Regions from separate parts of the Homo sapiens genome. Here region 2 is linked to region 1. Evidence: fine-mapped expression QTL. A gene starts in region 1. The other region holds a variant in brackets. All regions are shown on one strand. Distances are between the middles of the regions.

Region 1 (17,085 bases):
ATACAGAAGTAGAGGAAGCAGCAGAAAGAGCCCTGTGGGGCACTCTCGGTCCCCAGGGAAGCCATTCCTGACTTTCTCTCGCAGGAGTCCTTGAGGAGGGCTGCCAGTGGAATTACAGAAAGACCAAAGGGAGAAGGAAATTTCCAGACAAACTTTGTAACACTTTTGACTGAAGGCGAAGTTTCCTGGACCGAATCCAAGGGAGGGGGCAACCTAGGAGTACAGATACAAGCACAGAAACTGTGGCATGTGGGGAGGCAGGAAACCTGAAAGCCCTGCTTGCTTTCTCAGCAGGGAGGCTTGTAGCCTGGGGCAAGTTCTCAGCCCTGCTCACCAGCTGCCTGTAAATAAACTCAGTGCTGTTGGTGGGGCACGGTGGGAGTAAGACTGGCCCTTCAGGCTCTGCGGTGAGGCCTGTCACTACTGGCTTTTCCCCACTTCTGTGGTAACCTGTATGATGCAGCAGAGGCAGCCATAATCCCCCTGGGAACATAACTCCGTTAGCAAGCCTAAGAACCATACCCTGCCCCCCACAGCAGCTGCAGCAAGCCACACATAAAGAAAATCTCAGCTCAGACACATATAACCCTGCCCCAACTTGATGGTCTTTCTCTACCCACCCTGATAGCCAAATACAAAGAACATAATTTCTTGGGAGCTCTATGGGCCCAACTACCACCTGAAAAACCTGAATATTTATGCAGGCAACCCTAAGGCAAGCTTGTATCCTCCCTATACTACCACAGCTGATGCTCTCTCGAAAGCACCACCTCCTGGCTGGAGGCCAACCAACACAAAACCAGTGCACTAAACAAAACTGCAACCAAGAACCCTCATAGAGTCCAATTCACTCCCCTGCTACCTCCACCAGAGCAAATGCTGGTATCCATAGCTGAGAGACCTGAAGATAAATAACATCACAGGACTCTTTGCAGACATGCCCCAGTACCAGCCTTGAGCCTGGTAGCTCGTAGATCCACTGGTAGCTAGATGCAGAAGAGAAATAACAATCACGGCAGTTCGGCTCTCAGGAAGCTCCATCCCTAGGGGAAGGGGGAGAGCACTACTACATCAAGGGATCACCCCGTGGGACAAAAGAATCTGAAAAATAGCCCCTGAGCCCCAGATCTTTTCTTCTCACATAGTATACCCAAATGAGAAGGAACCAGAAAAACAATTCTGGTAATATGACAAAACAAGGTTCTTTAACACCCCAAAAAAATCACACTACCTCACAAGCAATGGATCCAAACCAAGAAGAAACCTCCAAATTGCCAGAAAAAGAATTCAGAAGGTCGATTATTAAGCTATTTAAGGAGGCACCACAGTAAAGTGAATACCACCTTAAAGAAATAAAAATTATACAAGATATGGATGGGAAAAATCTCCAGAGAAACAGATAGCATAAATAAAAAACAATTATAACTTCTGGAAATGAAGGACACACCTAGAGAAATGGAAAATACACTGGAAAGTCTCAGCAATAGAATCAAATAAGTAGAGGAAAGAACTTCAGAGCTCGACAGCAAGGCTTTCAAATTAACCCAGTCCAATAAAGACAAAGAAAAAATAATAAAAAATAAATAAACAAAGCCTCCAAGAAGTTTGGGATTATGTTAAACAACCAAACCCAAGAATAATTGGTGTTCCTGAGGAAGAAGAGAAATCTAAAAGTTTGGAAAACATATTTAAGGGAATAATCGAGGGAAGCTCCTGGCCTTGCTAGAGATCTAGACATCCAAATACAAGAAGCTCAAAGAATACCCAGGAAATTCATTGCAAAAGATCATCGCTTAGGCACAAAATCATCAGGTTATCTAAAGTCAAGGCAAAGGAAAGAATCTTAAGAGCTGTGAGGCAAAAGCATCAGGTGACCTACAAAGGAAAACCTATCAGATTAGCAGCAGGTATTCAGGCAACAACTAGCACAACAAATAGAATAGTATCTCATTTTCAATACTAACTTCAGTGTAAATGACCTAAATGCTCCACTTAAAAGATACAGAATGGCAGAATGGATAAGAATTCACCAACCAACTAACTGCTGACTTCAAGAGATTCATCTAACACATAAGGACTCACATAAACTAGGAAAAAGACATTCCATGCAAATGGACACCAAAAGCAAGCAGGAGTAGCTATTCTTATATCAGACAAAACAGACTTCAAAGCAACAACAACAACAAAAAAAGACAAAGAGTGACATTATATAATGATAAAAGGACTAGTCCAACAAGAAAATATAACAATCCTAAATATATATGCACCTAACACTGGAGGTCCCAAATTTATAAAACAAGTACTACTAGACCTGCCTAAGAAATGAGATAGACAGCAACACAATAATAGTGGAGGATTTCAGTACTCCACTGACAGCACTAGACAGGCCATCAAGACAGAAAGTCAAAAAAGAAATACAGACTTAAACTATATCCTAAAACAAAATGGACTTAACAGATATTTATAGAACATTCTACCCAACAACTGCAGAATATACATTCTATTCATCAGCACATGGAACATTCTCCAAGAAAGACCATATAATAGGCCACAAAACAAGTCTCAATAAATTTAGAAAATCAAAACTAGATCAAGTATTCCCTCAGACTCTAGTGGAATAAAATTGGAAATCAACTCCAAAAGGAACCCTCACAAGCATGCAAATACATGGAAATTAAATAACCTACTCCTGAATGATCACTGGGTCAACAATGAAATCAAGATGGAAATTTTAAAATCCTTTGAGCTGAATGATAGCAGTGACATAACCTATCAAAACACCTGGGATACACCAAAAGCAGTGCTAAGAGGAAACTTCATAGCACTGAATGCCAACATCGAAAAGTCTGAAAGAGCACAAATAGGCAATCTAAGGTCACACTTCAAGGAACTAGAGAAACAAGAACAAACCAAACCCAAACCCAGCAGAAGAAAGGAAATAGCTGAGATCAGAGCTGAACTAAATGAAATTGAAACAAAAATAAAACAATACAAAAGATAAATAAGGCTGGGCGCGGTGGCTCACGCCTGTAATCCCAGCACTTTGGGAGGCCGAGGTGGATGAATCAGGAGGTCAGGAGATTGAGACCATCCTGGCTAACACAGTGAAACCCCGTCTCTACTAAAAATACAAAAAATTAGCCAGGTGTGGTGGCAGGTGCCTGTAGTGCCAGCTACTTGGGAGGCTGAGGCAGGAGAATGGCATGAACCCCAGAGGCAGAGCTTTCAGTGAGCCGAGATCATGCCACTGCACTCCAGCCTGGGCGACAGAGCGAGACTCTATCTCAAAAAAAAAAAAAAAAAAGATAAATAAGACAAAAAACTGGTTCTTTGAAAAGATAAATAAAATTGATAGACGATTAGCAAGATTAACCAAGAAAAGAGGAGAGAAAATACAAATAAGCTCAATAAGGAACAAAACAGGAGATATTACAACTGACACTATATAAATACAAAAGATCATTCAAGGCTACTGTGAACACCTTTACATGCATAAACTAGAAAACCTAAAAGACATGGATAAATTCCTGGAAAGTAGAGAGGCATCACATTACCCAACTTCAAACTATACTATAAGGCTATAGTCACCAACTCAGCATGGCACTGGTATAAAAATAGGCATGTAGACCAATGAAACAGAAAAGAGAACCCAGACATAAAGCCAAATACAGCCAACCAATCTTTGACAAAGCAAACAAAAACATAAAGTGGGGAAAGGACGCTCTATTCAACAAATGGTGCTGGGATAATTGGCAAGCCACATGTAGAAGAATGAAACTGGATCCTCATCTCCCCTTTATACAAAATCAACACAAAATAGATAAAAGACTTAAATCTAAGACCTAAATCATAAAAATCCTAGAAGATAACATCAGAAAAACCCTTCTAGACATTGGCTCAGGCAAAGACTTAATGACAAAGAACCTAAAAGCAAATGCAACAGAAACAAAAATAAACAGATGGAATTTAATAAAACTAAAAAGTTTCTGCACAGCAAAAGAAATAATCAGCAGAGTAAACAGCCCACAAAGTGGGAGAAAATCTTTGCAAACTATGCATTTGACAAAGGACTAATATACAGAATCTACAAGGAACTGACTTAAACAAACTAGGAAGAAAAAACAGCCCACAAAGTGGGAGAAAATCTTTGCAAACTATGCATCTGACAAAGGACTAATATCCAGAATCTACAAGGAATTGACTTAAACAAACTAGCAAGAAAAAAATAAACAATCCCATCAAAAAGTGGGCTAAGGACATGAATAGACAATTCTCAAAAGAAGATATACAAATGGCCAACAAACATATGAAAAAATGCTTAACATCACCAATGATCAGGGAAATGCAAATCAAAACCATGATATGATACCACCTTATTCCTGCAAGAATGGCCATAACCCAAAAATCAAAAAATAATAGATGTTGGCATGGTTGTGGTGAAAAGAGAACACTTTTACACTGCTGGTAGGAATGCAAACTAGTACAACCACTATGGAAAGCTGCATGAAGATTTTTTTAAAGAACTAAAAGTAGATCAACCATTTGATCCAGCAATCCCAGAGGAAAAGAAGTGATTATACAAAAGGATACTTGCACACATATGTTTATAGCAGCACAATTTGCAGTTGCAAAAATATAGAACCAACCCAAATGTCTATAAATCAACAAGTGGATAAAGAAAATATGTTGGCCGGGTACGGTGGCTCATGCCTGTAATCCCAGTTATTTTGGGAGGCCAAGGTGGGCAGATCATGAGGTCAGGAGATCTAGACCATCCTGGCTAACATGGTGAAACCCCATCTCTACTAAAAATACAAAAAATTAGCCAGGCATGGTGGCAGACGCCTGTAGTCCCAGCTACTCGGGAGGCTGAAGCAGGAGAATGGCGTGAACCCGGGAGGCGGAGCTTGCAGTGAGCCGAGATTGCACCACTGCACTCCAGCCTCGGCAACAGAACGAGACTCCATCTCAAAAAAAAAAAAAATTGTGATACACACACACACACACACACACACACATACATACACATAGACCATGGAATACTACTCAGCCATAAAAAGGAACTAAATAATAGCATTTGCAGCAACCTGGATGGAATTGGAGATTCCATCTATGTGAAGTAACTCAGGAATAGAAAACCTAACATCATATGTTCTCACTTATTAAGTGGGAGCTACGCTATGATGATGTAAAGCCATAAGAATGATACAATGAGCTTTGTGGATTCAGGTGGGAAGGGGGGTAAGGGACAAGATTTACTGATCAAGATTGTTTTGGATATTCAGTTAACCAAATATTCTTGGTCCTTAAGGATACACAGAAGAGAGTGATTCTCAACCACAAAGAAATGAAGGTGACGGGGTCTGTGATGGGGACTTAAATGAACAAGAGGTTTAGAAACACTAATTCAAGTCTATCCCCTTCATAATACAAATAAAGAACCTATGACCCATTAGACCTATAAACTTCTTGAGTAAAGGAACTGAGTTTTGTCTACCAAAATGCATTGTAAACATTCAAAATAAAAACTTGTTTGAATGAGTGAAATTAAAGGCATACCCAAGATCAAAAACTAGTTAGTGTCAGAGTTAAGCCAATGATAATATCTCTCAGTTGGAGGTCTTATTTTGCCTATCCCACCTTTATGGAAGGGTCCCATTATCACTATGCTGAAGGCCCAGAAAAACACTGGTGAAGGTGGACTTTCACACGAAGCCGACTCTGTACTGCAGAGTGGCATGTGGGAATATTAATACAGAGTGCTCTTATGATCAACTCTTTAAGAAGAGCAGGGAAAGAAGTAGGATTAGGCAAAGGAAAAAGTTTAACTGTGGTGTAGTACCAAAGGAGGCCTCGAGGCTTTTGACTCGAAAGCAGGGGTCCCCAACCCCCAGGCCACGGACCAGTTCCTTTACTCACATTTCTTGTGCACACCCATATATCCTTTCTCATACCCCTCTACCTCAGACATCCTTGTTCCCAATCTACTAATTCTTCTTCCAAGTCCCTTTCCAACCAGCCAAGCCATTCACCCTTCCCCATGAGTCCATGTATATTTTAACCTGGGGCTATTTCTCTTACTACACAAAGTGAATGATGAAGTGCACCTTCCAAAGATCTGCCCATCAGGAGGATATTCCCTGATCACTTCTCTTTCAAGGACACACAAATAGAGCTGTAGTTCAACTACAAAATCAAACTGACCCATCCGTGAATCTAATGTGGGCTTTTTTTGCTTCACCAACTGATCAAAGGTATCACCCATGGAGATATAAGTTGAGGGAAAGGCACTTGGGCAATGGTAGTGGATGACATGAAAGAGTCCAGTCCACCTGCTCATGCAGCTTGCACCCTCTGGTCCTGCTTGTGTTCACTCCTGCACGTACCACTTTCATCTTAGGATAGATCATTACTGAACAACTGTGACCCCGATGTCACCTGTGTGATATCTCAGCGCCAAGCAACACATCTCTCCCAGGGCTCTGCAGCACGCCAGGAGCTATTTTTCAAAAGGTATATAAATCTCTGCTGTGTATTCTGAACATGCTTCTGAATTCAACAAGTTTGTGTTGTGAGTCTCCCATTGAAACTTGCCATAAACTCCACACATCCCTATCTTCCATTCTGTGTCTTTTTCCACCACTGATATCCCTTATATGCAAATGTATGGCGCTACCACCCATATGCAGTAAAATCTATCATAATTTTTTCTGAGTTTTAGCTAGTATAATATCTTAAATGTAAATATACAAAATTTCTTTTTCTTGAATCTATGCTTTAAATTCAGTCTCCACATTCAACTTTTTCTGTAATTAACCTAACCTATGGGCAAGCAGGAGAGGTTAAAAAGTGGCCAGAATCATTAAAGACAACAGGCTACAGAAGATTAGAGGGAGGAGCACTTACTTCCCTTTGAGAGTGTGAGAGGTTGAATGATGACCCATCCAAAAATATCCACATACTAATTTCTAGAACCTAAGAATTTATCCTATATGGAAAAAAATATTTTACAGATGTTATTAAGGGTCTGAGTGGATCCTAAGTGCAATTACATGTATTTGTATAAGACAGAGACAGAAGGAAACACACACACTCACGAGTAGAGAAGGCAATAACGTAAGCATGGAGACAGAGACTGGAGTGATGTGCCACAAGCCAAAAGAATGCCAGCAGTCACCAAATCCCAGTAGGAGCTGCAAAAGGCAAGGAACAAATTCTCCACTAGAGCCCCTCTTGGGGGAACATGGTCCTGTCAACACGTTGATTTTGACCCAGTAAAAATAATCTCTTATTTCCAGCGTCCTGAACTGTAAGAGAATAAAGTTCTATTGTTTTAAGTCGTCAAAGTTTGCGGTAATATGTTAACAGCAGCAAGAGAAAATTAATATAGAGATAAATAGGAATAATAAAGAAAAACCTTATGTGGTGAATAGAATTTTAATGGTAGATAAGATTTACATATATTGTGATTGAAAAAGAAGAAAAACAGTAGGGAAGAGGTAATATTACAGGTGGAGGGAAAAGTATTACAGGTGAAGGGAAAACTTAGTAAAAAAGAAATTTAAGGGAGTTATACAGGGAAAACAAAAGTAGTTCAATTAGACAAGAGTACAAACTGCTTGAAGATGGTGATACAGATTGTTGACAATCCTGAATGCCAGTCTAAACGTGCACTTTGATCTGTAGACAGTTAAGGTTCTCTGCAACTTGTAAGGACAGGGTCAGGGCAGGGGAGGTAAGGGAGGAGGAAACACCAACATGATACACCTTTTGCACATCTGTGTCACACTACTCTCTATTTTTCTACTCTTCACCCTCCAACACAGGTATGAGGGTTGAGATTGATTCCCCAGGACCTAGTAAAAAAGTATGGCATATATGTTTGATGAATAGTGAATGCATTAACGAATAATACTGTACATGTTTTGTTTTACTCATCACTAAGCATGGTATGAGGGAGTAGAACAGAATACCAAACTGCACTTCAATCACTTACTTTTACTCTTCAAAGTTCTGATTATTAAAATGATTTTATTTTAAAAGTAATATTCCAAATATAAGAGATTTGGACTTAATGTGATTAACCGTAAGGCATACTTCAGAACACCAATAGCAATTCTAGTCAATTCCACTCAGTTAATGGTGGCTGTCTGAGGCAATGTTGAGAAATAATGTAAGAATTACACCATAATAGATTAGGAACATTTGCTAAAGTGCTGGATTCGGAGTAGAAACATAAATGGCTTGTTTCCCATTCCATTCTTGCTCTAGAAGTTAGTTATTTGCATACAAATGGCCAACAGGTACATGAAAAATTGCTCAACATCACTAAGTATATAAGAAATGAAAATCAAAGCCATAATGAGATATTATCTTACCCCAGTCCAAATGGCTACTGTTAAAAAGACAAAAAATAATGGATGTTGGTGAAGATGCGGAGAAAAGAGAACTCTTATACACTGTTGATGAGAATGTAAATTAGTACAGCCACTGTGGAAAAGTATATGGAGATTTCTCAAAAAATTAAAAATAGAATTATTCAATCCAGCAATCCCACTATTGGGTATCTACCCAGAGGAAAGAAATCAGTATATCAAAGGGATACCTACACTTGCATGTTTATCGCAGCACTATTCACAATAGCAAAGCTATGGAATCAACCTAAGTGTCCATCAACAGATGAATGGATAAAGAAAATGTGGTATATATACACAATGGAGTACTATTCAGACATAAAAAATGAAATCTTGCCATTTGCAGTAACGTGGATGGAGCTGGAGGTCATTATCTTAAGGGAAATAAGCCAGGAACAAAAAGACAAATATCACACGCTCTTACTTATATGTGGAAGCTAAAAAATTTGATCACATTAAGGTAGAGAGTGGAAAGACAGATAACAGACTGGGAAAGATGAGGGGAGTGGGAACAGGATGAAGAGAGTAGGTTAAAGGTTACAAACATGGAGTCAGATAGAAGGAATATATTCACTGCTTGATAGTAGAGTAGGGTAACTATAGTTACACAAAAATATATTGTATTTGGATGACAGACACCCTAAATACTTGTAACAAAATTTCTCACGTACCCCATAAATTTGTACAAATAAAGTTAGTCACTTGGTTTTTTTAAAAACTTTTCGCCCAGGCGCGGTGGCTTATGCCTGTAATCCCAGCACTTTGGGAGACTGAGGGGGGCGGATCACCTGAGGCCAGGAGTTTGAAACCAGTCTGGTCAACAGGGCGAAACCCCATCTCTACTAAAAATAAAAATATTAGCAGGGCGTGGTGGTGTGAGCCTATAATCCCAGCTACTTAGGAGGCTGAGGGAGAAGAATCCCTTGAACCTAGAGGGCAGAGGTTGCAGTGAGCCAAGATCGCGCCCCTGTACTTCAGTCTGGGTGACAGAGCCGGGCTCTGTCTCAAAAATAAAAAAAAAATTCATTTCTATGCCTTCTTATGTAAGTACAGAAAGAAAAATTCCGTTTAAATGGAGATGTTCATTGGTTGAAGATGGTTAATCAAAGACATGCTGCATTCAAGTAAAAAGCAGACAAAGGCTTGAATATCGAGGAGTTGCAGAGCCAGTATGGGTAACTATTCTAAAATCCTTAAATCGCTCCTGGGCCCTCGAAGTCCTACCCGCGTAGGTCAGCCCGAACTATCAAAATCCCCACTTCCTCTGGAGGTAAGGACGTCCGCCGCGCTCTCCACGTGTCACCTTAAACTCCCACCCCAACCAGCGCAGGCGCACTTCGAAGCCTCCTAGACCAACCTAAGAGAAGTACTGAGCAAGCGCATGAGTTCCATTAACCACGCCCTCCGGAGCTGCCGGAGCAGGCGCAATTAGGAGTAGAGGGCGTGCTTGTGTGATTACAGTCCACTTTACCTTTAACAGATTTGGTTGTCTGGACTCTAGCTCAGGTTCTTTTACCCCTGTCTTGTTGGAAGTCACTTTGCCTAGAGTAGAAGTTGTTTGCGGGAAAAATTTGCTCCTCCCATTAAGTAACCACTTTGCTCTCTGAGGCGGAACGTGTCATTGAGGCAGCAAGTCCTGACAGATATGGAAAAAAAAAGGCACATTGTAGAGAATATCTACACTCCGCCAACTCAGTCACAACGCAAAAATTACACAAAAATAAAACGTTCACTTGTTACATACTATGTGTTTCATAAGACATACAAGTAGTTTTATTTTCCTATATCAATGAGAACAGCACTTCTAACTATTAACAAGGACCTATACTAAGACGCAGCGCGTGCGCGAGCCATCTGGCGCTGTAAAGCGCTTAGAGGCTGGAATAACGACCTGCCTTACGCTTTGCGGCTGTCGTCGGAGAGGCATCTGGGTTCGGACTGGGGCCGCCATGGGGAAAGTGAATGTGGCCAAGTTGCGTTACATGAGCCGAGATGACTTCAGGGTCTTGACCGCGGTAAGAAACCCGCCGTTCCTGTTCTCCCTTCCCCTTAACACTGTGTGACCTCTTCCTGTTCCTGCAAGTTTTCTGGGATCTGAGCAGGCACACTCTGGGACCCGGGACGTGGCAGAAGCTGGGAATGGAGAAGAGAGCATTCAGAAAGTCGGATTTTTAAAAAGGTTTTGTTTGGGAGCTTACCTTCCCCCAGATAGAGCAAAGGTCCCGTCTTCTAATAATTGTTTTCTTTTCTGCTGCTATTCGCTTTGCGCTGAAGAGAAACGCTTGCATCTCTGTGGCCTGGAAACTTCTCTGATCCTGAGCTTCCGACCAGCTGTGAAAGGTTTAAGCCCCCCCCCCCCCCCGAGATTTGATAATATTGACTTCCCTACTAACAGACTCAGTCGCATAGCAGTCTTTCTGATTCATTCAGTCAACACATATTTGTCGGTTTTTTAGTAGCAACATTAGGAGGTTCACTTGTTCAAACAGACAAGTGGAGAGAGAGACACAGATCATCAAGTAAACGAAAAATAGGATAATGGATAAATGCTATGAAAATGATAAAGGATAATGGCATAGAAAGTATATGTATCTGGTGGAGAGGAGGGGCACAAGTTATTGGCCTTTGGTAGACAATCAATAAATATTCACTAAATGAAAGAATGAATGGGGGAATAATAGGAGCTGTGTGAGAAAGAGACAGCCCAGTGAAGTCCTTGGAAAGAGTTGGAGGCAGAGGAAACAGCAGTAGTAAGTGCAAAGGCCTTGAGACAGAAAAGTCTTTGAAGAGAGGAAAGGCCAATGTAATGTGGCTGGAGCAAAGTGAGATGCACACTAATGGTTGGAGATGTAGCGGAAAAGGTGAGAAATTATGTACTACAGAGCCTTGGAGGTTTGGTAAAGAATGTGGGGGTAACCACTAAATGTTTTTAATCAGGGGAGTAACAAAATCTGATTTTATGGCCTCAGTCTTATGGCACAGAAATTAATATATAGATCAAGACATTTGTACATTTATTTAGGAGCCGTTATCTTTTGGTAAGGAGTGAACCCCATGATAAGGACTACCTATATTGTGTAATTATGTAATAGGATATGCGATGTGAGTCACACTGGTTCTTGCATTATGTTAAGGCTTCAAGTTTTGGATTTTTAAAATTAATCTTAAATAGCGCTTAAGTATTAAACTATCAAATGCAAAATCAGTGTGAAATTTGGAAGACAATGTTTACTTTGCCTCTCATGTAGATTCTTCTAATCAGCTGGACTTTCTCTATGAAAACCTACTATCACTTCGGAAAGATACCTTCCTTTCCTGCTTTCTCAGCACACTCATTCCTTAGTGTCTCTGACAGAAGTAGGGGTCAAAAGTAAGAGTGTTAGAGGACGGGGGAGGCAGAGACAAAGCATGGAAAATAAGTTAAATTTAAAAGTTAAGGTTTTGGTGAGACATCAAAATGATGCCAGATTTATCTTCCAAAACATTGGCGCTGCAATATTTAAATTATTTGTAAAGTTCACCAAGAAATGACTTAGTCATTAAATATGACATTCCGGTCTCAGTTGAATCTCACCAGTGTTGGTACCCTTTCTTGGGCCTCTCTTCCCTTTTACTTCTTTGGCTCCTCCTATATCAATAATCATTGTTTGACTAGCTGCCCTTAGCTTTCAATATGAACTTGCCCCAGAATTCTGCTCCCAAACATTCCTTTTCTTCCATTATCTCCTGCTCAGTGATAGCATCCACTTCACATCTTCAACTCTCACTTCTATAAAATAATTGACAATTTTTCCTTCTAATTATAACTTCATTCCTAAATATAGGCCCCTTTCCTATTTAATTTTCTCTCTTTCTTTTTTTTTTTTTTTTGAGACGGAGTCTTATTCTGTTGCCAGGCTGGAGTGCAGTGGCACAATCTCAGCTCACTGCAACCTTCACCTTCTGGGTTCAAGCGATTCTCCTGCCTCAGCCTCCCAAGTAGCTGGGACTATAGGCGCACACCACCACGCCCAGCTAATTTTTGTATTTTTAGTAGAGATGGGGTTTCACCATGTTGGCCAGAATGGTCTCGATCTCTTGACCTCGTGATCCACCCACCTTGGCCTCCCAAAGTGCTGGGATTACAGGTGTGAGCCACTGCACCTGGCCTCCAGTTTTCCTTTAAACATTTTTATTTGACTCTCAGTGCTCAAACCAAATTCAATTTTTTTCTACCCCCTTTCTCTTTTCCCAAGCTCTATAAAAAAAAAAAATAATAAAATCTTAAAACTTGCTTTTCCTCATCACTTCCAATTGTGGCTTTCCGTTCCCTTTACCCTTCCACATCTAATTGCCAAGCTCTCCCATAATACTTCCTAAAGATTTTTATTCCTTCCTTCCAGTACCACTACCACTTACCCTGTTCTGGTGGCTCTTTCCTCTGAGCTGGACTTCTGTCTTAGTTCTCCGGAGTACCCCCTCAGATTTTGCCATCTCTAAGCCAATTTGCATATTCCTGGTACATTAATGTCCTTAAAATAACCCTGTTCGTGTGTCTCCCACGCCTAAACATCTTCAAGAGCTTCCTGCTCTCATCAGGATAAAATATAAAAGTATTTGGTCTACATTTTAATGCCTTCTCTATCCTAGAAGTATCTTCCAGCCGCGTTTGCATGAATTCTATATGCTATCCCATCTGAGCTGCTACTGTACTCAGCTATTCTCTGTGGTCAGTACTTTCTTGCATATGTGCCATTTTCAAATCTTTTTCTTTCACTAATATCCCCTTGTCTGTTTTCTCTGTATGCCCACATCTTTTAAAAGTCAGTCTCTAGTTTTGCATCTTCCTTGGAACTGATCCCTCAGCTAGAAGTATTCTTATTCTGCCCTGAGCTACCTTTTTAAGCACTTATCACTTCTTAACTTCTAATAAACTTAGATGTATACCATTTTTTAAAATTTCCATCATGAGATAAAAATTTCTCAGAGGTAAAAAGCACATATATATATATATATATACATATATATATATATACATATACACATGCAGAAGAGCATGTAGGATAGAGATATATATATATGTGCTTTTTACCTCTGAGGAATAAATTTAAAAATATATATATAATATATATATTATATATATATTATATATATATAATATATATATATTTTATATATATATATTATATATATATATAAAATACTTTTAAGTTCTGGGGTACATGTGCAGAACGTGCAGGTTTGTTACATAGGTATACACATGCTATAGTGGTTTGCTGTACCCATCAACCCATCCCATCTACATTAGGTATTTCTCCTAATGCTATCCCTCCCCTAGCCCCCCACCCCCCGACAGGCCCCAGTGTGTGATGTTCCCCTTTCTGTGTCCACGTATTCTTACTGTTCAACTCCCACTTATGAGTGAGAAAATGTGGTGTTTGGTTTTCTGCTCTTGTGTTAGTTTTCTGAGAATGATGGTTTCCAGCTTCACCCATGTCCCTGCAAAAGGCATGAACTCATCCTTTTTTATGGCTGCATAGTATTCCATGGTGTATATGTGCCACATTTTCTTTATCCAGTCTATCATTCATATATATATATATATCCTCTACGATGCCTACATGTAGTACTTTCTCATTAAATACCTGCTTAATAAATATCTGGCATATCTGTAGTTTTTAAAGACAAATGTTTAGGTGTCATCAAGTATTTTAGCATTGACCAAATGTCATCAGTATGTCTAGCACTCACAGTTCCTACTCTTGAAATGGAAAGCCAATACAAATATCAATGATTAGATTTCAAATTGCAATTAAAAATATTTTCAAGAGACGGAAGTGATTATGTCTCAGAATTAGTTGGAGAACTGCATAGTCAGGAAAGCTTCAAGGAGAAGTTAATTTCGCAGGGTTTTGATAGACAAGGCTTTGTGTTGATTATGATTATATAATGATTCCTTTAATTTCAGGTTGAAATGGGCATGAAGAACCATGAAATTGTTCCCGGCAGTTTGATTGCTTCTATAGCCAGCCTTAAACATGGTGGCTGTAATAAAGTTTTAAGAGAATTAGTGAAACATAAACTCATAGCTTGGGAGCGTACCAAAAGTAAGTATTTTGAGGCACCATTTGTGATTTTTCAGGTAATTGGTTTCCACCAGAGCAAGTGTTCCAAAAGTCAAGAAGTAGAAGTTGCCAGACTAGTAAAGCATTAGACGAAGAACTGACAGAACACACTTCGGCCATATCCTATTAGTCAAAATAATCACAGGGCACACCCAGATCAAAGGAGGTGAAAAAAGAATAGTAGTAAGAACATGTAGGTACTGCAGAAGAGCATGTAGGTACTGCAGAAGAGCACGTAGAGTACTGCAGAAGAGCATGTAGAGTACTGCAGAAGAGCATGTAGAGTACTGCAGAAGAGCACGTAGGTACTGCAGAAGAGCACGTAGGTACTGCAGAAGAGCAGGTAGAGTACTGCAGAAGAGCAGGTAGAGTACTGCAGAAGAGCATGTAGAGTACAGAAGAGCACGTAGGTACTGCAGAAGAGCACATAGAGTACTGCAGAAGAGCATGTAGAGTACAGAAGAGCACGTAGGTACTGCAGAAGAGCACGTAGGTACTGCATAAGAGCAGGTAGAGTACTGCAGAAGAGCAGGTAGAGCACTGCAGAAGAGCATGTAGGTACTGCAGAAGAGCATGTAGGTACTGCAGAAGAGCAAGTAGGTACTGCAGAAAAGCATGTAGGTACTGTAGAAGAGCATGAAGAGCATGTAGGTACTGCAGAAGAGCATGTAGGTACTGTAGAAGAGCATGAAGAGCATGTAGGTACTGCAGAAGAGCATATAGGATAAAGCTATTGTGGCTACCATCTTTGGAAAATACAATCAGTAGTCATACCCTAGATCATTACTTCTGAAACCATCTGTGGTGAAGGATTAGTTTTTTCCAACCTATCACAGATCCTTACTTTTATAAAATACAAAAAAATAATTACTAGAAAAATGAAATGGATAACAGATATACAAAAACAGACATAAATTCTAGGTCAAATTGATATACAAATTGAACTTAAATTCCTCCTTTTATCTTGTCACAAACACTTACAGACCTGTCTGTAGGTCACATTTTGATTATCAGTACACTGGAGAAGAAATGCAAATTATAGGAAGAAATTGGAAGCTTGTGAGCCTGGGCAGTTTATCTTTTTCCAATGAAGACTTTATTGTTAAATCTTTCTTATGACTTGAACTTACGTGACTTGGTTGTACAATGTAACTGAAATATGGTCTTTATGCTTTGATTTTTGTCTAGCTGTCCAGGGCTATCGGTTGACAAATGCAGGATATGATTACCTAGCTTTGAAAACACTTTCTTCTAGGCAAGTAGTTGAGTCTGTTGGAAACCAGATGGGTGTTGGCAAAGAATCAGGTAAGTGCTAATAGTACTGTGCAAAGTATTTTCTTTGCTTTAGTTTATGTTTTCCCTTCAGAAACCTTTCCTCTTTTAATTTTCCCTTTTTTCTAACTAAACAGTAAGTTGGAAAGTTGATTGGAAGCAGTACAAATCAGAAGGTGTCCTTAATTAGTAGGTTATTATTTTCTCTGAACGTCTATCACTGAAAATTCATTTATACCAGGAATTAATTTTCTTCTAATAACTCCCAAGATATATCATTATTTATGTGCAAATATACCAGAATCCAAAATTCAAAACACTTCTGGTCCGAAGGTTTTGGATAAGGAGGGATACTCAATCTTTATTAGGAAAAATGACATTTTTGATACAAATAAAATTAGAGAAAGTTAGAATTGTTTTAACTGATTGGAATAAACGTGTAATAATGGTTGTTTTTGAAATTTTGTCTCTAGATATTTACATTGTTGCAAATGAAGAAGGACAACAATTTGCATTAAAGCTTCACAGACTAGGAAGAACCTCGTTTCGAAATTTGAAAAACAAACGCGATTATCATAAACATAGGCACAATGTGTCATGGCTATATTTATCTCGTCTCTCTGCCATGAAGGAATTTGCCTATATGAAGGTATTTATTTTATTTTGTAGTCATGCATTTTTTAGCCAAATAATACATGTGTCTCAAAGGCCTTAATGACAAGTGTGATTCTGTTGTCCCCACATCTCTCTAACCTTAGACTCAATTCCTACAGACAGACTCAATCTTAAATAACTCTGTTGATTATTTGGGCTCTTTTAAGTGATTTCCTTCTACGTTAAGGTATTTTAAATTGTTACTAATGCATAAGGGCAACACATTCTGTAATGCTGACAAGATGAAAGAGCCAAAAGTAATTAATGATGCTGTTACCTCACAAATATGTATGTGTGGATGTATATATATCTATTCAATATATGTAACTATACATATGTCTGTTTCTAATTGAAAACACCAGGTAATTATCATCTGTAGAAACCTTAGTGTCTCAGATAAGTTGGCTAGTTTTTTGTTTCACATAAAGGAACAAACATTTATAGATTTATATGTATATTAAAAATGGTAAAAATTGGCTGGGTGCAGTGGTTCATGCCTATAATACCAGCACTTTGGGAAGCCGAGGTGGGCGGATTACTTGAGGTAAGGAGCCCAGCCTGACCAACAAGGTGAAACCCCATCCCTACTAAAAATACAAGAATTAGCCGGGGATGGTGGTGGCCACCTGTAATCCCAGCTA
Region 2 (17,085 bases), 830 kb after region 1:
GTCTGATGTTGACCTGGGACACTCGAGCTTGGTGGGAAGAGGGGCATCCACCATTACTGAGGCTTGAGTAGGCAGTTTTCCCCTAAGAGTGTAAACAAAGCTGCCAGGAATTCTGAGTGGCAGAGCCCACCGCAGTTCAGCAAAGCCACTGTAGCCAGACTGCCTCTCTAGATTCCTCCTCTCTGGGCAGGGCATCTCTGAAAAAAAGGCAGCAATCCCAGTCAGGGGCTTATAGATAAAACTCCCATTAGGCTGGGACACAGCACCTGGGGGAAGGGGCAGCTGTGGGTGCAGTTTCAGCAGACTTAAACATTCCTGCCTGCTGACTCTGAAGAGAGCAGTGGATCTCCCAGCACAGCTCTTGAGCTCTGCTAAGGGACAGACTGCTTCCCCAAGTGGCTCCCTGACCCCTGTGCCTCCTGACTTGGAGATACCACCCAGCAGGGGTTGACAGACACCTCATAGAGGAGAGCTCCAGCTGGCATCTTGCGGTTGCCCCTCTGGGATGAAGCTTCCAGAGGAAGGAACAGGCAGCAATCTCTGCTGTTCTCCAGCCTCTGCTGGTGATACCCAGGCAAACAGGATCTGGAATGGACATCCAGCAAACTGCAGCAGACCTGCAGCAGAGGAGCCTGACCGTCAGGAGGAAAACTAACAAACAGAAAGGAATAGCATCCACATCAACAAAAAGGACGTCCACACCAAAACCCCATCCAAAGGTCATCAACATCAAAGACCAAAGGTAGATAAATCCACGAAGATGAGGAAAACCAGTGCAAAATGGCTGAAAATTCAAAAACCAGAATGCTTCTTCTCTGAGGGATCACAACTACTCACCAGGAAGGGAACAAACTGGTGGAGAATGAGTTTGACAAACTGACAGAAGTAGGCTTCAGAAGGTGGGTAATAACAAACTCCTCTGAGCTAAAGGAGCATGTTCTAACCCAATGCAAGGAGGCTAAGAACCTTGAAAAAATGTTAGAGGAATTTCTAACTACAAAAACCAGTTTAGACAAGAACATAAATGACTTGATGATGCTTAAAAACATAGCATGAGAACTCTGTGAAGCATACATAACTATCAATAGCTGAAGCGATCAAGCAGAAGAAAGGATATCAGAGATTGAAGATCAGCTAAATGAAATTAAGTGTGAAGACAAGGTTATAGAAAAAAGAATGAAAAGGAATGAACAAAGCCTCCAATAAACATGGGACTATGTGAAAAGACCAAACCTATGTTTGATTGGTGTACCTGAAAGTGACGGGGAGAATGGAACCAAGTTGGAAGACACCCTTCAGGATATTATCCAGGAGAACTTCCCCAACCGGGCAAGACAGGCCAATAGTCAAACTCAGAAAATACAGAGAACGCCACAAAGTTACTCTTCGAGATGAGCAACCCCAAGACACATAATCTTCAGATTCACAAAGGTGGAAATGAAGGAAAAAATGTTAAGGGCAGACAGAGAGAAAGGTCAGGTTACCCACAAAGGGAAGCCCATCAGCCTAACAGTGAATCTCTCTGCAGAAACCCTACAAGCCAGAATAGAATGGGGGCCAATATTCAACATTCTTAAAGAAAAGAATTTTCAACCCAGAATTTTAAATCCAGTCATACTAAGTTTCACAAGCAAAGGAAAAATAAAGTCCTTTACAGACAAGCAAATGCTGAGAGATTTTGTCACCACCAGGCCTGCCTTACAAGAGCTCCTGAAAGAAGCACTAAATATGGAAAGGAAAAACAGGTACCAGCCACTGCAAAAACATACCAAATTGTAAAGACCATTGACACTATGAAGAAACTGCATCAACTAATGGGCAAAATAACCAGCTAGCATCATAATGACAAGATCAAATTCACACGTAACAATATTAACCTTAAATGTAAATGGGCTAAATGTCCCAATTAAAAGACAGACTGGCAAATTGGAAAAAGAGTCAAGACCCATCAGTGTGCTGTATTCAGGAGACCTATCTCACATGCAAAGACACACATAGGCTCAAGATAAAGGGATGGAGAAATATTTACCAAGCAAATGGAAAGCAAGAAAAAGCAGGGGTTGCAATCCTAGTTTCTGATAAAACAGACTTTCAACCAACAAAGATAAAAAAGACAAAGAAGAACATTACACAATGTAAAGGGAGCAATGCAACAAGAAGAGCTAACCATCCTAAATATATATGCACTCAATAAAGGAGCACCCAGATTCATAAAGCAAGTTCTTAAACACCTACAAAGAGACTTAGGCTCCCACACAATAATAGTGGGAGACTTTAACACCCCACTGTCAATACTAGACAGATCAACGAGACAGAAAATTAACAAGGAAAGGATGTTCAGGACTTGAACTCATCTCCAGACCAAGTAGACCTAAGAGACATCTACAGAACGCTCCACTACAGATCAACAGAATATATATTCTTGTCAGCACCACATCATACTTATTCTAAAATTGACCACATAATTAGAAGTAAAACACTCCTCAGCCAATGCAAAAGAATGGAAATTATAACAAACAGTGTCTTAGACCACACTGCAATCAAATTAGAACTCAGGATTAAGAAACTCAAGCAAAACCACACGACTACATGGAAACTGAACAGCCTGCTCCTGAATGACTACTGGGTAAATAATGAAATTAAGGCAGAAATAAATAAGTTCTTTGAAACCAATGAGAACAAAAACACAACGTACCAGAATCTCTGCGACACAGCTAAAGAAGTGTTTAGGGGGAAATTTATAGCACTAAATGCCCACAAGAGAAAGCAAGAAAGATCTAAAATCAACAACCTAACATCACAATTAAAATAACTAAAGGAGCAAGAACCAGCAAATTCAAAAGCTAGCAGAAGACAAGAAATAACTAAGATCAGAGCAGAACTAAAGGAGATAGAGACTCGAAAAACCCTTCAAAAAATCAATGAATCCAGGAACTGGTTTTTTGAAAAGATTAACAAAATAGATAGACCACCAGCCAGATTAATAAAGAAGAAAAGAGATAAGAATTAAATAGACACAATAAAAAATGATAGAGGGGAGATCACCACTGATCCCACAGAAATATAAACTACCATCAGAGAATACTATAAACACCTCTATGCAAATAAACTAGAAAATCTAGAAGAAATGGATAAATTCCTGGACACACACACCCTCCCAAGACTAAACCAAGGAGAAGTTGAATCTCTGAATAGACCAATAACAAGTTCTGAAATTGAGGCAGTAATTAATAGCCTACCAACAAAAAAAAGTTCAGGACCAGATGGATTCACAGCCGAATTCTACCAGAGGTACAAAAAGGAGCTGGTACCATTCCTTCTGGAACTATTCCAAACAATAGCAAAAGAGAGACTCCTATCTAACTCATTATATGAGGCCAGCATCATCCTGATACCAAAGCCTGGCTGAGAAACAACAAAAAAAGAGAATTTTAGGCCAATATCCCTGATGAACATCAATGCGAAAATTTCAATAAAATACTGGCAAACCAAATCTAGCAGCACGACAAAAAGCTTATCCACCACAATCAACTCGGCTTCATCCCTGGGATGCAAGGCTGCTTCAACATACGCAAATCAATACATGTAATCCATCACATAAACAGAACCAAAGACAAAAACCACATGATTATCTCAATAGATGCAGAAAAGACCTTCGACAAAATTCAACAGCCTTTCATGCTAAAAACTCTCATAAACTAGGTATCGTTGGAAGGTATCTCAAAATAATAAGAGCTATTTATGACAAACCCACAGCCAATATCGTACTGAATGGGCAAAACCTGGAAGCATTCCCATTGAAAACCAGCACAAGACAAGGATGCCCTTTGCCACCACTTCTATTAAACATAGTATTGGAAGTTCTGACCAGGGCAATCGGGCAAGAGAAAGAAATAAAGGGTATTCAAATAGGAAGAGAGGAAGTCAAATTGTCTCTGTTTGCAGATGACATGATTGTATATTTAGAAAACCCCATTGTCTCAGCCCCAAATCTCCTTACGCTGATAAGCAACTTCAGCAAAGTCTCAGGGTACAAAATCAATATGCAAAAATCACAAGCATTCCTATACACCAATAATAGACAAACAGAGAGCCAGATCATGAGTGAACTCCCATTCACAATTGCTCAAAGAGAATAAAATACCTAGGAATGCAACTTACAAGGGATGTGAAGGACCTCTTCAAGGAGAATTACAAACCACTGCTCAAGGAAATGAGAGAGGGCACAAACAAATGGAAAAACATTTCATGCTCAAGGATAGGAAGAATCAATATTGTGAAAATGGCCATACTGCCCACAGTAATTTATAGACTCAATGCTATCCACATCAAGCTACCATTGACTTTCTAAACAGAATTAGACCAAATTACTTTAAATTTCATATAGAAGCAAAAAAGAGCCTGCATAGCCAAGACAATCCTAAGCAAAAAGAACAAAGCTGGAGGCATCACGCTACCTGACTTCAAACTATACTACAAGGCTACAGTAATAAAAACAGCATGGTACTGGTACCAAAACAGATATATAACCAATGGAACAGAACAGAGGCCTCAAAAATAATGCCACACATCTACAACCATCTGATCTTTGACAACCCTGACAAAAACAAGCAATGGGGAAAGGATTCCCTATTTAATAAATGGTGTTGAAAAAACTAGCTAGTCATATGCAGAAAACTGAAACTGGACCCCTTCCTTACACCTTATGCAAAAATTAACTCAAGATGGATTAAAGACTTAAATGTAAGACCTAAAACCATAAAAACCTAAAATAAAACCTGGGCAATACCATTAAGGACACAGGCATGGGCAAAGACTTCATGACTGAAACACCTAAAGCAATTGCAACAAAAGCCAAAATTGACAAATGGGATCTAATCAAACTAAAGAGCTTCCGCACAGCAAAAGAAATTATCCTCAGAGTGAACAGGCAACCTACAGAATGAGAGAAAATTTTTGCAATCTATTCATCTGACAAAGGGCTAATATCCAGAATCTACAAGGAACTTAAACAAATTTACAAGAATAAAATAACCCCATCAAAAAGTGGACAAAGGATATGAACAGACACTTCTCAAAAGAAGACAATTATGTGGCCAACAAACATATTTAAAAAAGCTAATAATCACTGGTCATTAAAGAAATGCGAATCAAAAACACAATGAGATACCATCTCATGCCAGTTAGAATGGCGATCATTAAAAAGTCAGGAAACAGGCCGGGTGCAGTGGTTCATGCCTGTAATCCCAGCACTTTGGCAGGCCAAGCTGGGCAGATCATGAGGTCAAGGGATCGAGAACATCCTGGCCAAAATGGTGAAACCCCATCTATACTAAAAATACAAAAATTAGCTGGGCGTGGTGGTGTGCACCTGTAGTCCCAGCTACTCGGGAGGCTGGGTCAGGAGAATCGCTTGAACCCAGGAAGCAGAGGTTGCAATGAGCTGAGATCACGTCACTGCACTCAAGACTGGTGACACAGCAAGACGCCGTCTCAAAAAAAAAATAAAAGACGTCAGGAAACAACAGATGCTGGAGAGGACGTGGAGAAATAGCAATGCTTTTACACTGTTGGTGGGAGTGTAAATTATTTCAACTATTGTGGAAGACAGGGTGGCGATTCCTTAAGGATCTAGAACCAGAAATCCCATTTGACCCAGCTATCCTAATACTGGGTATATACCCAAAGGATTATAAATCATTCTACTATAAAGACACATGCACACGTATGTTTATTGAAGCACTGTTCACAATAGCAAAGACTGGGAACCAACCCAAATGCCATTAATGATAGACTGGATAAAGAAAATGTGGCAAATATATACCACAGAATACTACGCAGACATAAAAAAGGATGAGTTCATCCCCTTTGCAGGGACATGGATGAAGCTGGAAACCATCATTCTCAGCAAACTAACACAGGAACAGAAAACAAACACCGCATGTTCTCACTCACAAGTGGGAGTTGAACAAGGAGAACACATGGACACAGGGAGGGGAACATCACACACTGGGGCCTGTCAGGGGGTGGGGGGCTAGGGGAGGGATAGCATTAGGAGGAATACCTAATGCATGCGGGGCTTAAAACCTAGATGACAAGTTAATGGGTGCAGCAAACCACCATGGCACATTTATACCTATGTAAAAAACCTGCACGTTCTGCACATGTATCCCTGAACTTAAACTATATAAAAAAAAGAACTATAAAGAATGAAAAGAGAAGCATCCAGAGACATAGGTAAAATTTTTGAAATCTGTACTGACCAAAATATATTTTAGTGTCTGAAGATACTCT[C/G]ATATTGAAAATGCAATATTAAAAAATTAAGAAAAAATAAAAAGTAAATTGTTTGATTAAAAATAAATAAATAAATAAATAAAAGCATACTAGACCTTCATCTTTCACAGTGGGAAGTTAACATTTATTGCCTAAGCTCCAGAACAAAGAAATATATACGTAAATATATATAAAATTAATAATATGCATAACATCTTATATATTATATTTACATTGCATAATTTATATTATATATAATATACATAATATATACTGTCTATAGGTACATAAGCATGTGTAAATATACATACAGATACATATATAAACATGTTATTCAAAGAAATGAAAATACCATATTTCATCAATCCTGAGACATACATTTTTTTTTTTACATTTCAACATCTCCATAATCAGGATACGTCTCAACCCATGGTGTATCATAGTTTAACTGGCAGCATTTGTTGCATTATAGAATCTCAGGCATTATTGATTTAATGAAATGCGGTCAATACCAATCAGTTGAAGGAGTTCAAAATGGCTGCCTCTGAGAAGCTACATAGATGGGGTGGTGAGGGTGGTAAGGGACTGCTATTGTAGTAACAACCTTGTGAAATTATTTGACTCTTTATGTATATGTGTACTTTATTTTTAAAAAATACTTCTAAATTATGTTTTAAAAGTTTTTAAAAATCCTGTTGGCTGTTTTGTGGAAAAGAATCACTAGGAGGATAAGATTGGGAAGGGGAAAATGAGCAGGGGCTCTCACTTGGTTCAGGAGACTGGTGATGGTTTAGTGATAACAATGGAGGTGGTGGTAATTGGTCGGATTCTTGATATGTATTTAAAGTAAAGCTGCCCAAGTTTACCAATGTATTGAATGTGGAATATGAGAGAAAGAAGAGAATCAAACATGACTACAAGGTTTCTGGCCTGAGAAGCTGGAAGGATGAAGTTTCAATATCCTGAGATGTGGAAGACTATATGAAAAGCAGGTATTAGTCAAGGTTCCCCAGGGAAATAGAAGCAACAGGAGATATAGATACAGATGATCGAGATAGAGACAGATAGATAGATAAGGGGGGATTTATTATGAGAATTGGCTCATGCAATTATGGAGGTTGAGATGATTCACCACATGCTGTTTGCAAGCTGAAGAACCAGGAAAGTTTGTAATGTTATTCAGTCTGAGGCTGAAAGCCTTGGGTAGGGGAAGGAGAAGAATAGTGTTAAGTCCTAAAGGTCAAAGGCCTGAGAGCCAGAAGCACTGCTATCCAAGGGCAGAAGGAGATGAAAATCACAGCTCCAGACAAGAGTGAATTTATCCTTCATCTGTCCTTTTGTTCTATTCAGGCCCTCAACAGACTGGATGATGCACACTCACATTGGTGAAGGTGGATTCTCTTTACTCAGTCTACAGATTCAACTTCTAATCTCTTCTGAAAACACCCTCATGTGCACACCCAGAAACAATGTTTTACCAGCGATCTGGACACTCTGCAACCCAGTCAAGTTGACACATAAAGTTAACCATCACAGCAGGATAAGGAAGGAGGAAATCAAGAGTGCAGTTAGGTCATATAAGTTTGGATGCCACTTAAACATCTAAGTGGAAGTGATTAGTAGGCAAATTATATACACAAGTCTGGAGTGCTGTACTAGCTAAACTGAAGATAAAATTTGGGTTTGTTTCTTCACTTTCCTACATCCCCCATCTAAAAAGTATGGTTATTGTTCACCTGCTTTTATAGGTAATGATAAAGTAAGTCTTGGTTTTTGTTTATGTGCTTGTTCAAAAATAAGTCTTCGAGTATTGTTTTTTTTTATCAATCAGTATTTGTAAGTTTTTGCCTCTTTCTGGTATTGTCCACAAATCCTGACCATGCTCATGTAAGACTGCTGTATTAGTCCATTTTCACATTACTGTAAAGAACTACCTGAGACTGGGTAATTTATAAGGAAAAGAGGTTTAATTGACTCACAGTTCTGCATGACTAGAGAGGCCTCAGGAAACTTACAATCATGGCAGAAGGCGAAGGGGAAGCAAGCACATCTTACATGGCAGCAGGAGAGAGAGCAAGGGGGGAAGTGCCACACTTTTAAATCATCAGGTCTCATGAGAACTCACTCACTATTAAGAGAACAATATGGAGAAAATCCACTCCCATCATCCAATCACCTCCCACCAGGTCCCTCCCCTGACATGTGGGTATTACAGTTTGAGATGAGATCTTGGTGGGGACAGAGAACCAAACCATATTAACTGCATACCTGTCCAGAAAACCTAAGCACGTCTTACCAAGACTTTGGTTCCTTTATGCAGATTTATTTTATTTTGATAATTGTGTTAAAAGGAATGGTGTTACCCCTGTTGGTGGAAATAAATTCTTCCTACATAGAGAAAAAGCTAAAACCAGATCTCCTATCACACTGAATCATGGATGCCAAGATTCTCAAGCAACAAAATTTAAAAAGCCTTCTGAAACCCTTAGAAACAGTTGCCTGGTACATTGCTAGTCAATTATGTTATGTTCAATTTCTTGGAGCCCCTTCCACAAACACATATACAAAGCAATGAAACGTAAGCAAATTTCATGAGTCAGGTGAAGTAACTCCTGCTTACTTTCTTCAAAGTAACACTAAAGTAAGGTCCTGATTTTATCCTCTCACCAGACGTTTTCCCATCAGACTTTTGAATTCACTTTACACATTTCACTTTGAAGAACACAAAAAGAGACACAAAACAAATTCTTTCTGACCAAAAAGACATGTATAAACATGATAAAGTCTTAAGCACCTTGGAGAAAGGCTCTTCATGAACTTTCTTGAGTTCCAGCCAGTCTTTGGCCATCACAGTATGGGCAGATCTGATAGACCTCTCTAATATTCTAAGTGTTGGGATGGTCCTCTAAGATGTGACTGTATGGTGAGGTACACTCTAGAGGCTAATTCCAGACAAGGAGTCACAAAAATACCCACCCAACAGTTATTTTGGTCTCTGCAATTAAAGGCATTTCGGTTAGTTAACTTTTCTGTGATCCTTTTAGAAAATCTGGAGAACTTTCCATTTCTTTCTACATTTATTATTTTGCACTCCCAATTTCTCCACCTTCTTCTCTATCCCTAAGCACTTAAAACAAAATATTTGATCATTTTTATAGCAGTATATAGTTAAACATAAAAGAACAGTGAGTTTTTTTCACCAATTTCTAGTGACAATTTAAAGACTGTTTTCTAACAGTTTTTTCTCATTACACCCACACTACCTTTCCCCTCAGTGTTTCTTTCTTGTAAAAATGACTCCAGATACGTAATACAGGTGTGCAGTAGACATATACCCTTAACAAACTGAGATAGCTTAATTATACTGGGATAACAAACAACCCTACATCTCTGTGGCCTAAAGCAGCAAAGTTTATTTCTTGCTTATAATACATTTCCCTCATGTGCCAGTTGAGTGTTCTGATTTCTGTCACTTTGTCCTCACCCAGAGACCTAGCCTGAGAGAGTGGACACAATCTACATTACCCATTGCTGAAGCAATGTGTAGAGACAGTGTGGCAAAAAATGCACTGGTTCTTAAACTTCCACCTGAAAAGGACACGCATGCCACCGCCATTATATCTCTTTGGCCATAGCAAGTCACATGGCCAAACCTAAGGGTCAGATAAATACAAATTTTTCTTACAGGTGGGGCACTGAATATTAGTAAACAGTTATACAATCCATTATACACACTCAACTACAGAGTTATGATGTTATGTGTTTTTATATCAAAATCCCTAGTAATAGAAGAAATTCCTGTTCACTTTGTCTAAGTGTTGTTTAGAAAAACATCTAAATTCTGAGATTCAAAGTCCTAAGTTACTGTCTCAACCTCACTCTGTATGTTTGGTTAACAGCTAATGGTTTCACATTTTGTAGATAAATAAAGGTCATCATCTCATTAAATGGATATGTTTCAGACCACAGAAAAATGCATGACATGGTTACCAAGGTTCTTCACTTATAATGAAGGTCTGAAAATGTCACCAGGGGAAATCAAGAGCCATTTTCAAGCTGAAACAATCAGTTCCAGTTGTGATTGTGCAATGATAATTACGCAGTTGTGTTCTATTCCTCTTCCCTAGTGTTATGGATGTCAGGAAATGTGCTGTTCCTTTTAACATTAACTCTTTATGGCTCAGAAAGATATTTGGGGGCACATGGAGAAGGAGGAAGTTGGAGTGGAATAGTGAAAAATGTGTGAAAAGAAAATAAATCTCGGGACCCCAAAATCACTAAGCCAAAGAAAAAAGTCAAGCTGGGAATTGTGTCAGGCAAACCTGCCTCCTATTTTATTTCTAAATAAGATAGCCACAAAGAAAAAAAAGCTACATATGTCCCTTACAATTTGCCCACTAGGAAATTCCTTGTGGGCTCCAATATCTTCACCCTAAAACAATTCTGTTGAATTTTACCCTGACAATGTAAATTGACAGCTTATCTTCACAGGTGGGGGACAAAGGACAGAACTTTGTCCTCCCTCTGCTCACCTGAGATAAATGGATATCTGATTGCTTACTCTGATGTAAAATGCAGATTTATGGAGCCAGATGAAGGCATAAGTGACTATTCCTCTACCTCCTTCTCATACGTAAATTGTGTATTTGGTGAAAGGCTGATCAAAGACTCAAAAGAGTGCAACTGTTTGTCTCTTATCTACACACACCTTCTAACAATTTATTTCTCTTTCCCCAATATTTGCTTTTTCCCTTTAAATACTGAAGCCCTTAAAATTATCTTTGGAGAAAGGCACAGACTTGCCTCCTGGGCACACATCATTAACTTTGGCAAAATAAACTTTCTAAATTGATTGAGACCTGTCGCAGACACTTTTTGGCTTACAAACATGAGATCAGGAATTATGACCTTTCCAGTATAATTTGACAAATCAAGCAATTTAGTCGATTGTCAATCAAGTGTGTGTTATCTATCTAGTTTACTTCATCACCACGTTTCTATTCCTGGTCATTTGTGTAGATTAGACTGATGCTATTTCTCACCTAAGCCACTGCACTAGCTTATTCCTTTCCTTCTTGCCTTCAATTTCTCTCTCTCTCCATTCCAACTTCCACATAGCAGCTATTTTACTAAAGCTCAGTTCTGATGGTGAAAGTTACACAAACAGAAAGGAGTTTACTGGCTCCCTGTCACTTACAAAATAATGTCCAGTTCCTAAGCACACCCTTTCCTCAACAACTACAGGTCAATCTACTTTTTAGTCTTTATTTTCCAATGCACCTTCTTAGGTTTAATGAAGTATGCAATTGAAAATAGTGAAATTTTTTCAGCAGCTAACATCCTCTTATTTTGAAAGATACAAATTTATCTATTCTTCCTTATAAGTGTAAATGTCTTGCTGACGCCAAAGAGTTTTTAATAGACTCATGATAACAATTAGGCCTCTTGATACATATGAAAGACAAAAATACCTGCAGTTGATCCTTGATGAACAGTTACATGTGTTGCATCCAAAGGCTAAAAGTAGATCTTTTTAAAATTACAGCAAAATAATCATGCCACAGAGAGGTCAAGGAGAGAGAAGTTAATAATATTTAATTATAATCACAGGAAAATGGTGAACTCTTAATGCCCAAACATGAATATATTCTTAAAAGCAGTATCTCAATTTAGACCAGAGCAACCAGTCAACTTAAATTCCAGCTGAGATTTATTTTAGTTCAATTTTGCAAATTGTCCTAATTGAATTCCCTTGGATAGGGAACAGTTTATACTGATAACTAGCAAAAAAAAAAAAAAAAAATAGTGTCCTTGTTGGTTGAAAAGAAAAATGAGAGAGAGACCAGAAAAAAAAAATTATAGAATATTTTGTTGGTTTGTGTAATGTTCTATGTTTTCTCCTTCCTGACTTAATCCCTGTCCTTCCCAAACTCCCAAAATCTTCATTTTACTCTTCAGAAACCCCAGCTCTATGAAACAATTCTTCTACATTCTCAAACATGTCTTCCTTGCACTTTCTGCTCATAATTAACCCTAACTTCCCATGTGGAACACCACTTCCGTTACAGCCCTTTTGATAGAAGTGGCATATTTCCTAATTCCCCAGGTATCTCAGGGCTGGAAGTGGGTTCATGTTCCAGACAAATATTTTTCCAGCCTCTGTAAATCCTGGACCTGCTGAGTCCAGGCTTACAGTCTCTGTCTTCCTCATTGCCATTGCCATCTGCCTCCTCTGTACACCATCTGTCCTTTCTTTCAGACACTGTCCACCATCCTCAATCCTCTTACTTTCTCCAACCCATGAACTCTTAGCAAATGACCCTGTCTTCTACTGGGGGAAAATAAACCATCTGATTGGAACTATATAGCCTCAACTTCCCACCATCAAATCCCAAAACTATCATTTTCTCCACCTTTCTGTTGCAATATGGAGATTGTCCCTTACCATCAAAAGCAATTCCTTCATCTGGACTTAGAATCTTTTTCCCTAGAGTCTTCTCCTTAGGAATCAGGCACCAACAAATCTCTCTATCTCTCCCTCTCTCTCTCTCTCTCCCTCTCCCTCTCTCTCCCAGGCCTCCTTCAAACTAGCATTATTCATGTCTCTCCAAATTTAAAAACAAAACAAAGAGTAGAATAAAATATTCCCTTAATCCTATAGTCCTTTCCATCCATCATCCTATTTCTTCCCTTCCTTCTTCTGTTACCTTTCTTTACTTGGCTTTATTTACTTTCCTCCAACTCTTACTCTAAATCTGGCTCCTGGGCCCACCATGCCACTGATACTGCCCTTGACAAGGTCATCATTGACCTCCATGATACTACATCCGATGAATGCATTTGAACTTTTCAGCTTACTTAATGACTCAGCATCTGCCAATTCAATGAAATAATCCTTTACTTAAAACATTGTCTGGCATCATCTTTTGAAACTCGATTTCTGTCTTATTTGTAGGCAATACTTTCTCTATTAATCATTAACTATTGGGGTTTGGGGGTTTTGTAGGGAGGGCTCTCTCTGAACTACTGTGTTCTTCTCACTTCACCCTCTCTCCACATCATCCACCCTGATGGCTTCATAGTAGACACGGTTAGTGGCTGCACAGCTCTCTTCAAATCATCTTTACCAGTCTCTGTGCCTCTTCCCTGGTTTTAGTTCACTTTTGCTCCCAATGACCCTTCAGAGGATTTCCTGTGGGGTTTAGAACTGGTCTTATTCCATTGCTGGGATGACTCTTAGGAACTTGGTGTGGGATGATAAGGCTGACTCACATTAAATGAGGTGGAGGTACCAGAGTAGTCTTGCCAGAGTTCTAAGGAAGAGATTCAAAAGCCCAAGATGCAGGTATGCCAAAATGGTTCTGTATAATAACTGAGGACCCGCCAGTGATGAAGGAGAGAAAAAAACCAAGGTCTGATTTACAGATAGACCAGCTTGGTATGCTAGTACAAACAAAAATAGACTGCTGCTGCATGACAGAGGTCCCAGCTTTGAACAGGAGTGCACCTGGTCATCCACTTTGTGTGAAGAGAGTGGCTTGAAGGAAGGATAAGCACGGACTTCTGAGCAGTGCAGAATGGATCATTTGGAATTGAACTATTTGGATTGGAAGATTGGGAACAAAGAGATCTGGAGTAGAAACAGGTTCATGGACCCATAGGAATGGGCAAACTGTGTATCATGCATTAATGTCCATTAGGGAGTATTCACTGTAGAAGAGGCTCTACAAAACTAGATGGACAGGATGACTTGACTGGTAAATGTCAGGTAGCCCTGGCCACACCAGGGCTGGCACACTGGGCCTCCTCAAAGAATAGTCACGGATATTCAAATGGAGGCTCTGCGTGAGCCCAGTGGAAGGGTCTCCCTCCCACCAATGCTGATCTAGTTACTGCCACTGCTGAAACCCGTCTGAAAGATGCCCAGTATGCTATCTCTCAAGAAGACACCATTTAGTTGCAAATAATTCCTTTTCTACCTTGAAAAGAGAAGTGATTTGTCTTATCCAGGAATAGCATATTTTCTGGGTATAGGTTTGCCTTTCTGCCCGCAGTGCCTCAATTCACACCTACTATTCAAAGACTCACAGAGTACTTGATTTACTGACATGGAATCCTGAATAATATTGCATCAGACCAGGAAGCCAACTTATGACAGATGGGGGTCACAGAACAGGTGCGTGAGTATGGAACCCACCAATTCCCACATACTGTATAGCCCAGATATTGCTATTTTGATAGAGATTGGAACAGTTTCTTAAAGTCACAACTGAGGTGCCAGCTTACAGACGATACATTATGAGGTTTGGGTGTTGCTTTAGGATGTAGTATATACCTTCTACCAATGGTCATTATGTGGTACTGTGTATCCAGTGGTAGAATATACGAATCCAGGAGTCAAGGGGTAGAACTAGAAAGAGTCTGTTCACTTCATTCCTACTGACTCACTTGTTATTTGGGAAATTTGTGCTCCTAGAAACTGGACCTAAGACAGGCTTCAATTACAATCTCTACAGTGACAAAAGCCAAATCCATTATCTGATCCACAACTTTCTTATAAGCTCAAAATCTGAATATCTAACCACCTGCCTGATATTCAAATTAGATGCCTCACAGGTACTTGCAAGCTAATATGTCCGAAACAGCAGTCACGATCTCTGCCTTCCTGCAGAATATCATTATAAGTGAATAGTACTGCCATCTACTCAGGAGCTCAAGCCCGAAATCTGGAGTCTTCTTCAAAATTTTTTATTCCTTTATCTACCATAGCCAATCAACCATCATGTTTTAGCAATTTTATTCTTCTAAATGTCACTCATATTTTGCAATCGGAGGATGTTAGCCTACTGGCACCACCCAAATGCAAACTCCATCATTTCTCAATTGGATCATTGTGACAGCCTTTATGGTGGCAACCTCTAAAATGGTCCCCAGTGATCCCTGCCTTCTGATGTTCACACTGTTGTGTAATCCTCCCTACTTTTGCTTCCAATAAATAGAATACAGTAAACATGATGGGATGTCACTTTTACATGGGTTACAAAAACACCCTGACTTTCATCTTTCTCTCAGTCTCTCACTTTCTCACCTGTGTGGAAACAAGCTGTGTCATCTGGGTCACTCTGCCCTATGGAGATATGACAAGGAACTGAGGGAAGCCTCCAGCAACAGCCAGCAGGGAACTGAAGTCCCTAGTCCAACAGTCCCTGAGGAACTGAATCCCACCCATAGCCACATGAGCAAATGTGGATTCTCCCTCAGTTAAGCCTTCAGATGGGAGAGCAGCTCTGGCTGACATCTCAATTACAGCTTCATGAGACCCTGAGCCAGTGATACCCAGCTAAGGAACTGTACACCCAAAAAAGTGAATTTTACTGTAATAATTTTTAATTATGGGAATAATATAGTGTTTCTTAAGAGATACTGTAGCATGCATTTGCACTGAGTTAGACGTAGAAAGTGAAAGGACAGATCAAAGACAGAGCAATTATAATGGAGCCCAATGCTAAGTCGAAAGCTCAGAATAAGCTCAGAATCAAGATACAATCTCTCCAACCACAAATCTCCTGTTTCTGGTAGATTTGTATCAGTAAAATAGTGTATCATCCAACACATGTATTAAGCAAGCATAGATTAGGGACTCTTCAAAAAAGAGTAGGTTAGGTTAAGACTCTTCAAAAAAGAGTAGATTAGGTTAAGAAGCTCTTTTGGGAAGAGAAAAATTAGCGTATATCTGGAGGTCACTGAAGTTTGCTGAAACCATTGGGGCCAGTGAGACTGGTAAGACTCCTTGTTAGATATCATCTCCCATGACAATAACAGACTGATTAAATATAAAAGGGAGATCTCAAAATTCTAAACTGGAAAAGAAAGCGATGTGCAAAATACAAATTGAATTTCATTTCCATATCTACCCTCATACACATAAGCACATCAAGCCAGAGTAGAGCAGCAGAAGGGAACAAGGCAAGACTTCGACCAAATCATCTGTGTTCAAATGCTGACCCCTTGTGTCTACAAGTCATTATATCACGGTATTCTGTACTTAACCATGTGGTTTTTCAGCTCTATTTGTGTAAGCAATAATGAAAGAACCAATGCAAACAAATTTGAAATATAATTCAGCCTGGGGAATTGTACTTGGCACAGAAAATGTGTTGGCTCTGCTTCCATTCACCTCTGCCTACCTGCCATCCACCTGGTAGGTATTAGTCACTTGTTCCATTTCTCCCAAGAAGAAATACAATCATCAGATGCAAATTAAGCCAGCATATCCCCCACAAACTTAAGCAAAAATAAATGAAGACTAAAGGAAAAGTAGAGTATGTTTAATTTCTCACTAGGTCAAGGTCTGATTGTGAGAATAGTCTGATTGTGAGAATATTTACTCAGCCTGCTACCTGATTCGCATTCCTTTGAATCTGAATTCTTTTCATGGCACATGAGCCACTGCTTGCTTTCATGGTTAAGTTAATGTGTGAATTTGCTTCTCACACAATTTGATTGATGTCTTGCTTGGTCTTGGAGAGGTAATGAGATTACCACTTAAAAAATATAACCATTAGTACATGAGAAAAAAAACCATATTTGGAGAAATTGTCAAATGTTGCATTTACTCATCCATTCATTCCACACATTTGAATATATCCATGGCTATAAGAGAATAATCCTTGATTCCTTCCTCATCCCAATGCCCACTTCCCTCCTATACATACAGACTCATCACTAGAAACTATGTCACTCTTCACTATTGCTTTAGGGCTTGCGGTACTAGCCTTTGATATTGTCCCTTGGCCAGTCTTCCTACACACC

The links.
Region 2: its variant is fine-mapped to the expression of RIOK2 in fibroblasts (GTEx, PIP 0.96).

Annotation. Positions count from the first base shown.
Region 1 is chr5:97,176,470-97,193,554 of GRCh38, reverse strand. It overlaps RIOK2 (RIO kinase 2), which reads left to right and starts at 10,308. Exons shown (of 10, transcript NM_018343.3): 1 at 10,308-10,429; 2 at 14,362-14,500; 3 at 15,707-15,823; 4 at 16,264-16,439. The coding sequence starts at 10,364. RefSeq lists a silencer at 248-297.
Region 2 is chr5:96,344,131-96,361,215 of GRCh38, reverse strand. The region is part of intron 3 of LOC101929710 (a long non-coding RNA gene); the gene reads right to left. LOC107986365 (a long non-coding RNA gene) reads right to left here. Exons shown (of 2, transcript XR_001742457.1): 2 at 16,867-17,085. It also overlaps a transcript of CAST not described here. Among named protein-coding and RNA genes, the nearest start is that of PCSK1, 81 kb to the left of the region's middle. The variant C/G (reference allele first, on the strand shown) is at 6,295.